Linked DNA regions of Homo sapiens: region 1 is linked to region 2. Evidence: fine-mapped expression QTL. A gene starts in region 2. The other region holds a variant in brackets. All regions are shown on one strand. Distances are from middle to middle. Region 1 has its middle 29 kb from the start of GSG1. Region 2 holds the start of EMP1 (epithelial membrane protein 1).

Region 1 (5,384 bases), 64 kb after region 2:
TGGGGAATGAAGTCATTTAAACATTTTTAATTGTTATGGAAATCTTTCTAAATATATTATTCTCCGTTTTTCTAAAGTTTACTCAACATAATTTATTACCTTCTATTAGGGCAGGACCATGTCTGTCATTACATACCCAGTGCCAGGTACAGTATCCAGGCTTCCAATATATGTTTGTAAAAGAAATAATTACAACCTCTAATATTTAACTTCGATGAAGAAAAATAATGAACTCTTGGACTCATGAGTTCTGGAGAGCTGTTTGCTCTTACCTCAAATCATTACATTTTCTGCATTCTTATTTGTGCTTTTATAATTCTCCTGTCTCCTCCCTCATCATAAAACTGCTAACTTCTAGCTTCTGTTTCTAAAGTTTCCCCCTGCCCCATTAATGTGCTGGTTCTAATCCGCTGTAGATCATAATTAAGCTTACTAGGTCATGCCTGAAATAAAAGTGAATAGTGTTGAAGAGATACAGAATAGTTCGAAGATTTTTTGATGTCCATGTTGGCCACCCAAAGGCCTTTTTTGCATCCTGCTGGTTTCAGCTGTGTTTCAGATGGCTGTGTCTGCCATGTATGAATAATTGCCAAATAAGTCAAATATTACTGTAAGAACTGCAGAAGAAATGCATAATAGACACCTTCTACATTGGTTAGAACATCTCACCATATGTCATCCAGGAAAAAGATTGCTTCTAATTATAGAATCCAACATCTAAATTAACCAGTTCCTCCACACTTGGGAGTCAAAGCCAACCAGGAATCCCAGTCCAGACAAGGGGGAGCCCCTGACACATCTAAAGGCTACAATATTCCTCAAAAGTCCAGGGTAAACTTCTCCCAGTATTTGGTAAATCTTCCATTTGCTGTTGCTTTGGATCTGACAGTAATTCCCTCCCAGGTTCCAGGAGTCTCCAAATTTATCACCATAATCAATCTAGAAGGATTGAGTGTCCCACAGTCCAATGAAATTGTAAGAATCTCTCCTTTATGCAAAAAGGATGCAATAATATATTCTGTCAAGCCACAAAGAGTTCAACGAAGACAGCAATGGACTGGTCCAAAGTAGGGAGGGAAAAAGTAGAGAAATGAGATGGATTTAGAATTCGACCCACTGGTTCCCACCCTTGGTGTGGCCTCTAACACCACATTGGTTCCAATGCAAACTGGTTAAACCATGAATTTTCTTCCCCCTACTTGGTCTGGTTTAGGGCCAGAGAGTTCTTTGTTGGTTGGAGTCAGGCAGGGCAGGGCCAGAAGGCAGAACTCTTAAGCTTCACCCCGAGTCAGGAGCTGCCTCGCCAGATGACCTCAGACAGGTTGTCTGAGCTCTTGGGGGTTCCAATTCAATATCTGTTAAACAGCAATGAGTGTACCCCTCTGCTCATACCATGGTACAAGATTTTGTTAATTGGTATCTGGAAAAGCTTGTATCTTTGGATGAAAGGGTTTATTAAGTTTTGAGCTCTGTTCTTAGCTGAGGTCTTTGTACAGTTGGGTTTTATGGCAATGAGGCTTCTATAATTTCCCTTTGGAGAGTTAATTCTATAAGCCTAAGAGTGTCGTGGCAAATAGATGCATTTACAAACCTCTTCTATTTCCTTCTGACTGATTTTCCTTCTCATAGATGACCAACATAGATTCATTCAACTCTAAGAAAAATTCTTTGAATAATTTTAATTCTAAAAATATTTGGGGGCCGGGCGCAATGGCACACGCCTATAATCCTGACACTTTGGGAAGCTGAGACAGGTGGATTGCCTGAGCTCAGGAGTTTGAGACCAGTCTGGGCAACATGGTGAAACCCCGTCTCTACCAAAATACAAAAAATAAGCCAGGCATGGTGGCATGTACCTGTAGTTCCAGCTACTCAGGAGGCTGAGGCAGGAGAATTATTTGAACCCAAGAGGCGGAGGTTGCAGTGAGCCAAGCTCGTGCCACTGCACTCCAGCCTGGGTGACAGAGAAAGACTTCATCTTAAAAAAAAAAATGGATTAACTAAATTTTTCTAAATAAAATTGTGGATTAAACATAGTAGTAAATCTTGCTGGCTTAAAACATTTAATTTTGAATCATTTAGAAAAGATCATGTTTTTTAAAGTGAATAGATACCTTTTGACATTATCTTTTTTAATAACTTAATTGGGATATAATTGACATACAATAATATACACTGTTTAAACTATACAATTTGAACAATTCTGACATACGTAGACATCCATGCAACCATCAACATAGTCAAGATAATGAACATATCCACTACACCTAAAACTGTTGGTGCACTTTTGTTAGGGCTCACTGTCTCCCTTCCTCCATGGTTTGTATTTTCTAGAATTCTAGGGAAATAGAATCATGAAGCATGTGCTCTCTTTTGTCTGGCTTCCTTCTTTTTTTTATTTTTTTTTGGGGGGACAGAGTCTCTGTCACCCAGGCTGGAGTGCAGTGGCATGATCTCGGCTCACTGCAACTTCTCCCTCTCAAGTTCAAGTGATTCTCCT[C/G]TCTCAGCCTCCCGCGAGTAGCTGGAATTACAAGCATGCACCACCATGCCCGGCTAATTTTTGTATTTTTAGTAGAGACAGGGTTTCACCATGTTGGCCAGGCTGGTCTCGAATTCCTGACCTCAAGTGATCCGCCCACCTCTGCCTCCCAAAGTGCTGGCATTACAAGCATGAGCCACCGCGCCCAGCCAGGCTTCCTTCACTCAGTATAATTATTTTGAGATTCACTCATGTTGTTGGGTGTATCATAGTTCCTTCCTTTTTATTGCTGACCAAGATTCCATTATGCAGATATTCCACAATGGTATATCTATTCCCTTGTTGACGGACATTTAGGCTATTTCAGACACAGCTACTACACACACACAGCTGCTATGGACATTCATGTACTAGGCTCTATATGGATCTATCCTTTCATTTCTCTCAGGTAAATACTCAGAAGTGGAATGGCTGGGTCATATAGTACAGGAAGTCCTTGTTTAACGTCATTGATAGCTTCTTGGAAATTGTGACTTTAAGCAAAACAACATATAACAAAATCAGTTTGAACATAGGCTAATTGATGTACACCAGAGTTAAATTCCTACAGCATATTTCTGATCACGAAAACATCACCAAACTTTTAAATAAAGACAAAAGCAATTATAATAGTAAACACTCAAATAAAAGGGGACCTGGCATGGTGGCTCATGCCTGTAATCCCAACACTTTGGGAGGCCAAGGTGGACAGATGGCTTGAGTCCAGGAATTCGAGAACAGCCTGGGCAACATGGCAAAACACCGTCTCTACAAAAAATACAAAACAATTAGCTGGGTGTCGTGGCGCGTGCCTGTGGTCCCAGCTACTTGGGAGACTGAGGTGAGACAATCACTTGAGCTCGGGGAGTCGAGGTTGCAGTGAGCCACAATCATGCACTGCACTGCAGCCTGAGCGACAGAGCAAGACCCTGTCTCAAAAAAAATAAAATAAAATAAAAATGAGTTATACATACATTTATGAAAGATTAATAAAAACAAGTAAGATAGTTATTTACCCAATTATTCCAGTTCAGTGCCATGGGTGGCCAGAGCCTCTCCCAGCCTCTCAGGGCACAAGGCAGGCAACCACCCTGGACAGGAGACCATTGCATCACAGGGCACACTCACTCACACACTCACACACACACAATCAGAATGGACAAACTAGACACACCAATTCACCTAACGTGCACAGCTCCAGGGTGTGGAAGGAAACTGGAATACCTGGAGAAAATCCACACAGACAAGGGGAGAAGGAGTAAACTCCACACAGACAACAGCCCCAGCCAGGAAGCGATTATTTTTCCTCATCAGTATTATTACAAAACTACATTGAACGAAATGACATTATTCAAGGACCTGCTGTACAATATTCACTTTTTATTAGATCCTGAATAAATAGTGTATTGTAGAAAGCATGACACATGTGAACCCTTATTTATAGTTCTTTGAACCCCTGCAAGTATTTATCATGGTAGTAAAACATTGACACTTTCTTCTTCTTTCCTTATGTTGTGTTAATAATAGAAAGAATTTGCTTTTGTGCTGTGCAGTGCAATTGACAAAAATTCTTTTGCATTCCTTTTAACACGTCATTACAAGTAATTTTTTCTTCTCTTTCTCTGGTTCACTCCAACTGATTGTCTGCTAAAAAACACTAACGTTTCCAAGACTGGATGAGATAGTCTAGATGTGTTCTCGAAAGAACTATATATCCATATTTCTTTTGTTCCCTTGTTTCTCAAATGGCAACACTGACCCTAGGTCATGCTCCCTTGCCAAAGGCTGCCTTGTCCCCTACCTCAAAAGTGAAACTGCAAAGTGTAGCCAGACCCTCCCTCTGACTGCTGTGCTCTTGGCTGCTGCTTTCTCTCTCTCTCCTTTCACATGTCCCCAGACTGATCAATCACTAATGCTGCAGTTGATATCTGACAAATTGCACACCTTGACTCCGATGCTTTCACAGATAAGTCTTCACTAAAAAGATACAGAAACTGGTTTTTATATAATTCCCAAGCTCTGAATCACCTTATTATTCTGTCAAATAAAATTATGTGGGAGATATTGTTGAAGACAAAACTTGCGTTTTCACAGTTTTATGCAAAAAATAACTTCGTTCAATTGTTGCAGAAAAATTTAGTGAGACTTTTAGAATCTTCACTCCAAAATCTCATTTTCTCTCCATCCCCTCTGCACTGCTTTCTCCTACTTTCTTGCTGACTTTTCTTCCTCCACTCTTCCAACTTCTTCTAAATTTTGGAGAAAATCATCCATCAAAGACTACAGCAGATAAATCTAAAAAGAGTCTTTGGCTTTGGGACAACTGGTTTGTTATTGCAAAAGTTAGGTTTTATCACTCCCTACACAAAAAATAATTTAATATGGATTTTTAAAATTAAAAATATAACTACCAGAACACTGAAAAATTGAATTTTTAAAATCATATTGGGACGGGAGAAGTCATCGTAAGGGTGATGCAAGCTCTAGAATCCATAAAGAAAATTATTGACAGATTGACTATGTAAATTTTGCAGTTCTGTGTGTGAAGGATATGATAACAAAGTTAAAAGGTAAGTGCCAGATTTGAAGAAAATACTTGCAATATAAATAAAAAGGGACAATTACTACCCTTAACATATATATATAAAGCCCCCTACATTGAATTAAACTTTAAGATTTGTGCATTTTACTGTATGTAAACATTACCATAAAAAATAAAAAGGACTGTAAACAAATATTGAATTCTGTTATTGATAAGAATCTGAAATAGTATACTGATACCTGCAACTTATTCTGAAATGCATAAAAAGAAGGTGGATTGATAAATGAATAAAAGGATGGATAGGTGAAAAGCTATGTGATAAAA
Region 2 (5,384 bases):
ATAGAGTCTACAGAAAAGCAGTCTTGCCTCATCCACAAGTTTTCCCCGGTCTTCAACGTGTCTCTCTCCAGTAGTCCCTGTGGGTCTGGCACTACCTGAAATCCCTAGAGCCACCCAGAGCAAGCCAAGAGGGTCTACATTCCCGGGTGAGGGGTCTCCATGAAGCCCACTGACAAGGCTGGGAACTTGATGGGCCTAATCTGGTCTCTGGAGGAAGCAGGAAGGGCTGAGGAAGGCACAGTGAGTCCTTTCCACTCTCCACAGAAGGGATCTCTTTCCTTTCCCCAGCGGTCTGCCCAGCAGTCCTGGGAGATAGCCAGATTCTAAGGATGTGATTTGCTCCAAGTTGGTTCTTGATGGCCTTTTGCCAACTCCCAAGACAGTTTAGTACCCACAAACAATGTAAATGTGGGGGGCCCTCTGACCAGGGCGCCAGACAGGATGTCCTGCAGCCCCCGCCCCCGCCCCATTCTTCGGAGTCTGGGTGGAATTGGATCTGCCCCTGAGGGTGGGAGGCAGCGGGCAGAGTGGGGGGGAAAAATAACCCTCACATTTCGGGATTGTCAAAGCTGAAATCCAGAAAAACTCTCACAGCTAAGGGACTCTTTCACTACTTCTTGGAGGAAGAGCAGAGAGCAGGAATCAGAACGGTATTTTTCTAAATTGTCTTCAAACTCCAGGAAGTAACATGTAGCATATTTTCTCCTTTATAAACCTACAGTATCATGTGAAACCTTGCCACAAATAATGCAGTTCATGATGGTTTACACTCCCAACATTGTCAGGGCTTTCCGTGTGTTGACTGGTTATTAGTTTTAACCTGCACAGAACTAAAAGATTTGTATAATTTTCACAGGATATTAACACTATTGATTTAATAATGGCTAATCCACATCCATGTAATGTGGAAATAATAAACATGTGAAGCAAATGTAGGAGTTCCCTTCATCTTGAAAAGTTGCCCTGATGCCTACTCAATCGTCCCCCTTGGGGCAGTTTTACAAGGAGCATTGCCTGCTCAACACAGGGTTGATTACATGTAACTTCTCTCCCAACGTACTGCCTTTCTAAAGGAAAAGCCTAACTTTGTCAGACAAGCTGAATCCTGTCATTCTCATCTTGTTTACTTGGGGAAAAAATATACCAGTGTCTATGTTGAAATGGGCCACACCTCGGTAGACACTCACCCAAAATGCTAACCGAAAAAAAGAAAAAAAGAAAAAAAAGAAAAAGCACCCTTCTTCATTCCTCCAGATTTCATGATTAGCATGAGTGTTTGCATTTATACAATCACATTTCGGGAACAAGAGAAAAGATAAGCATTTCAAAACAATCACTGCCTTCCATGCAAAGAAATTCCACATCCACTTTCTTTTAAAAGTTCTTTTATCGTTTCTGGTATGCCATCTTTTCACTCAGCACTGAAAGGCAGCTCTTTCTGGGGTGAAAGCACAAAGCCACTCAACAATTTTTAACAGGCACAGATGAAGTTCTCCTGCCCCACCCTCTTCTCCAAACCCAGCTTCCCTTTTGCCTCCCCCGCCCTCCACATCTGGCCAAGAGAAGGCATCTGGAATCCTCATCAGCTCCTGCTTCGACCAAGTGAACCCCTCCCACGTTTCATTTAAAACACCATTTGCCTCCCTCTCTTTCTCTCTCTAACAGTTTTCTTTTTTCATTTTTTTTCTTTTTCTTTTTTTTCCTTTTTGAGACAGAGTCTCACTCAGCTGCCCAGGCTGGAGTGTAGTGGCGCAATCTCAGTTCACTGCAACCACCATCTCCCGGATTCAAGCAATTCTCCCGTCTCAGCCTACCAAGTAGCTAGAATTACAGGCACCTGCCATCATGCCTGGCTACTTTTTGTATTTTAGTAGAGACAGGGTTTCACCATGTTGGCCAGGCTTGTCTTGAACTCCTGACCTCAGGTGATCCGCCCGCCTCAGCCTCCCAAAGTGCTAGGATTACAGGCATGAGCCACCGTGCCCGGCCAACAGTTTTCTTTAAACAAACCAATCCCCCTCTTCCCATCCTGTGAGGAGAAAAAAAATACTTAAATTTAAACAGAAGTGAATAGGGAAGCAAACAGGCAGGAAAAGCAATGTCAAAAATAAACTGAAAACCAGTTATCTATCCACCACCACCCAAAAAATCCCAACCAACAACCAGCGAGCAGAGTAACAGTTCAAGTCCTGAAGCAATCGGAATCAAAACGGAGGAGGTGAAAAACATCTGGCCAGTTCCCGATGTCATTTCCAAGGTGTGTGGTGTTTCCTCCATAAACAGGATCCTATCCCAGTTTGTTTCAAAGTCCCTGCTCCCTCCACATCCTAGAACAAGAACCCGGTCACTGCCAGGCACGATTTTAGCCCCATCCCATTGATTTCCCCAGACTCCGTCCTCAAAATACACTTTTCTGAACTTTCTAGAAAAAGTTGTCTCTGTATCCACTTTGAGCCAAAAGTTTCAAGGACTTGGTTCTTAGAGGATCATAGAAAAATAGCGAAGGAAGAAAAGAAAAAGCAAAACTAAGATGAGGTCAGAAGAAGCAGAGCCGTGGAAAGGAAGGAGAAGTTTTGCTGAGAGTCCCCACAGCGTTGGGAGCTGTCCTACCTGAAGGGTCCCAGCGACAGAGGCGCTCTGAGTGGCAGGTGCTGGCAGCAGCCCTGGTCCGCTCTTCTGGAAGTATGTGACCGCACTGAGGGGAAGGACCTGCCTCCCGAGGTTATAAGTTTCCTCTGCTGGTGTACTGGGGTGTGTAATGGGCGGTTTCTTTTCACCGTGTTTTAAAGGAGTTTCTATGAATCAGTCTGGCTTTAAAAAAAAAAAAAAGATTTGTTGGTAAGCTACGCCCTGCTAAGCTGGCAGTCAGTCAAGAGTGGCTGGGAGTGAGCCATCAATTCAAAGAACCCTGTTGTAGGCTCTCTCTGACTCAGACACACAGACCACAGTGGAAAAAAGGAGGGACATTGCTTCAAATGAGTAACAGGATCACACAAATAGATCTGTTTACTGAAGCCCATTCCTCCTCACCAAAAAGGAGACTTGGTTACCATGGACATAAGGCAAAACACAAGGTTTCAGCCTGGGAGGGGGAGGAAAGGGGCCAGTGTCCTGCTGACTGAAGTCCTAGGTCATCATCAAGCGAGATTCCCAGTCTTCCTCCCCCATTAAAAGCATCAGCTGCTGCTCACTGTCAGGAATTATCAGATTCCTTTTTTTATTTACTTCCCTGCCTGACCCTGGTGCACTGTCCTGTGGGTGGCTGTACAGGGAGGCCCTGAAGGCGAAGGGGACACACTAGGAGCTCTTGCAGCCCTGCCTCTGAGTGATGGAGCACTGATTGAACAGCAGAGAATTCCTGGTCTTTCATTATGCTCTGCTAGTGCCCGTGTGGACTCTCCACATTCCAGGAGGAAGTCCTCTAGTTAAGAACTTTGCTCTCTGTAATAATCAGCTGGACCTTGTTCTACAATTGACTTTCTTGAACTTGGCCAGTAGCATAATCATCCCTACTACCTCCCTGCACCACTCCTCTCTCTCTCTCAACTCTGGAGCTGGGAGAGGCCTGTGAAGTCATCTCATCCCACAGCCCAGGCATTCCACTGGAGAGAGTAAAAGCCCAGATGCCTGAGTTCAAGCCCAGCTCTCCACAAATTTGCTGTGTGACTTTAGGCAAACCACTTAACTTCTCCATGCCTATTTTCTCATGCATAAAATGGAGATGGCAGGTATGTAACTCATAGAGCTATGATGAGAAATACACATATAGGGGCTCATGGCAGTGTGCATAGTGAGCGCTCAACAAATCTTAGCTACAAGGATTATTTTACTGAAGAAGCAGCTCAGGCCCAGAGAGGTGAAGTGACTTATTCAAGGAGATACAGTACGTTACCAGTAGCAGCTTGGATCTAGGTCAGCACATCCAAGCAATTCTATTTCTGTTATTCTCTGCTGCACCCTGACAACTTATTTCAATTCAAAATATGCGTGTGTAGTATTTATTCATTCATTCTGCCAATACAGGCTGCACGTCAGTCTTCACTGGGCCTGATTCAGAGCACTGAGTCACAGAAGTGAATGACATCCCTGCCTCTTGGAACTTATATTCCCTAAAAAGATAGAAAACAGACTGGTGGCTATTCACCAAAATGTTGATCAAATTCGATGATAAAATTATGGATGCAGTTTAGTTTGTTCTGGTCACAATTCTGTATTTTCCAAATCCTCTGCAATGAACCTATATTACTGTCTTTAGGATGTTGGCATGTGGATGGATGGATTTTAGGAAAAAATATTTTAACATGGGAATGTGGAGAATATTTTCTAAGGTGGATGATAAGGAAAACACAACACACACACACACACACACACACAATGATTTGATGATGCTGCATCTTCACAAGTCCCTGAGAACTGAATTCTATCTCTGTAAAAGTAAGAAGGTCTGGATTTTCTCACTGAAAACTGATGACGTGATAAAAGACTGCATGTTTCTCATAGAGTTCCTCACCTCTCCCCTCTCTCATTGCTCATTTGATAATAAAAATGCCTGTCTGAGAGGGGCCACTCCCAGCAGTGGGTTGAGAGTCCCTGTGATCTCTGAGCATCCCAACCCTCAGGGAGGGGAGGGTGTCTGCAGGTGAGGCCAGGAAATCCCCAGGCATGTGCTGGCGCTCCAGATGGGCCAGTCTCCCCTGCTGGAATCGGCCTGTCTCCCTGGCCTTTTCCTACTCTCAGGGTTGCCTTTCACCCCTGATGCCCTCTGCCAGTTTTAAAGTCTCTCTTCCCTCAGCTGCCTGGAAAGGAGAACTGGACTCCAGAGGAAGTGTTCTCAGATGCTGAGGAGTATGTGGTCTGATTGCATTTCTTAAAGAGAAACCTGGAGCCAAGGAATAGCAGAGGGGAGGCATTCTCCCTCCCACCTCCTTCTCGGGCTTAACAAGGGGAAAAATCAGGAACTTTTCTTAAAGTACTTGAGTAGAGGAATCCTTCAGTCTATCTGGATTTCCATGGATTTCACAAAGAGAGACGCTGGGCTCAGGGACGGGCTTCAAAACAGGACCCAGAAAGCAGGAGGCCCAGTTTCCACGCCTACTACCTGGCAGTGGCTGTGAGCGAGGCATCTGCCTGCCTCCATTTCACCTTAAAGTGAGTAGACAGCATCACCTTCCAAATGGGTCTGATAAATCTCACCTTCCTGTGTGCTTTTGGAGATGTCTAGGTTTGGAGAGAAAATATTAAATGCATTGAGCTGTGAAAACACACCCATGCACACATGCAAAAACACATGCACGCACACACACATGCACACATGCACACACAGAGTGGTGCCATAGAAAGCCAAGTTGTGTAAATATTTTTAAAAGATGAATGCAAGTCCAGGA

What was found. PIP is the estimated chance that this variant, and not a neighbour inherited with it, causes the effect. A credible set is the group of variants that fine-mapping cannot tell apart.
Region 1: its variant is the best candidate, but not a certain one, in a credible set for the expression of EMP1 in thyroid (GTEx, PIP 0.75).

The regions. Positions count from the first base shown.
Region 1 is chr12:13,129,866-13,135,249 of GRCh38, reverse strand. No RefSeq gene overlaps it. Among named protein-coding and RNA genes, the nearest start is that of GSG1, 29 kb to the right of the region's middle. The variant C/G (reference allele first, on the strand shown) is at 2,501.
Region 2 is chr12:13,194,099-13,199,482 of GRCh38, reverse strand. It overlaps EMP1 (epithelial membrane protein 1), which reads right to left and starts at 2,757. Exons shown (of 5, transcript NM_001423.3): 1 at 2,611-2,757. RefSeq lists an enhancer at 217-717.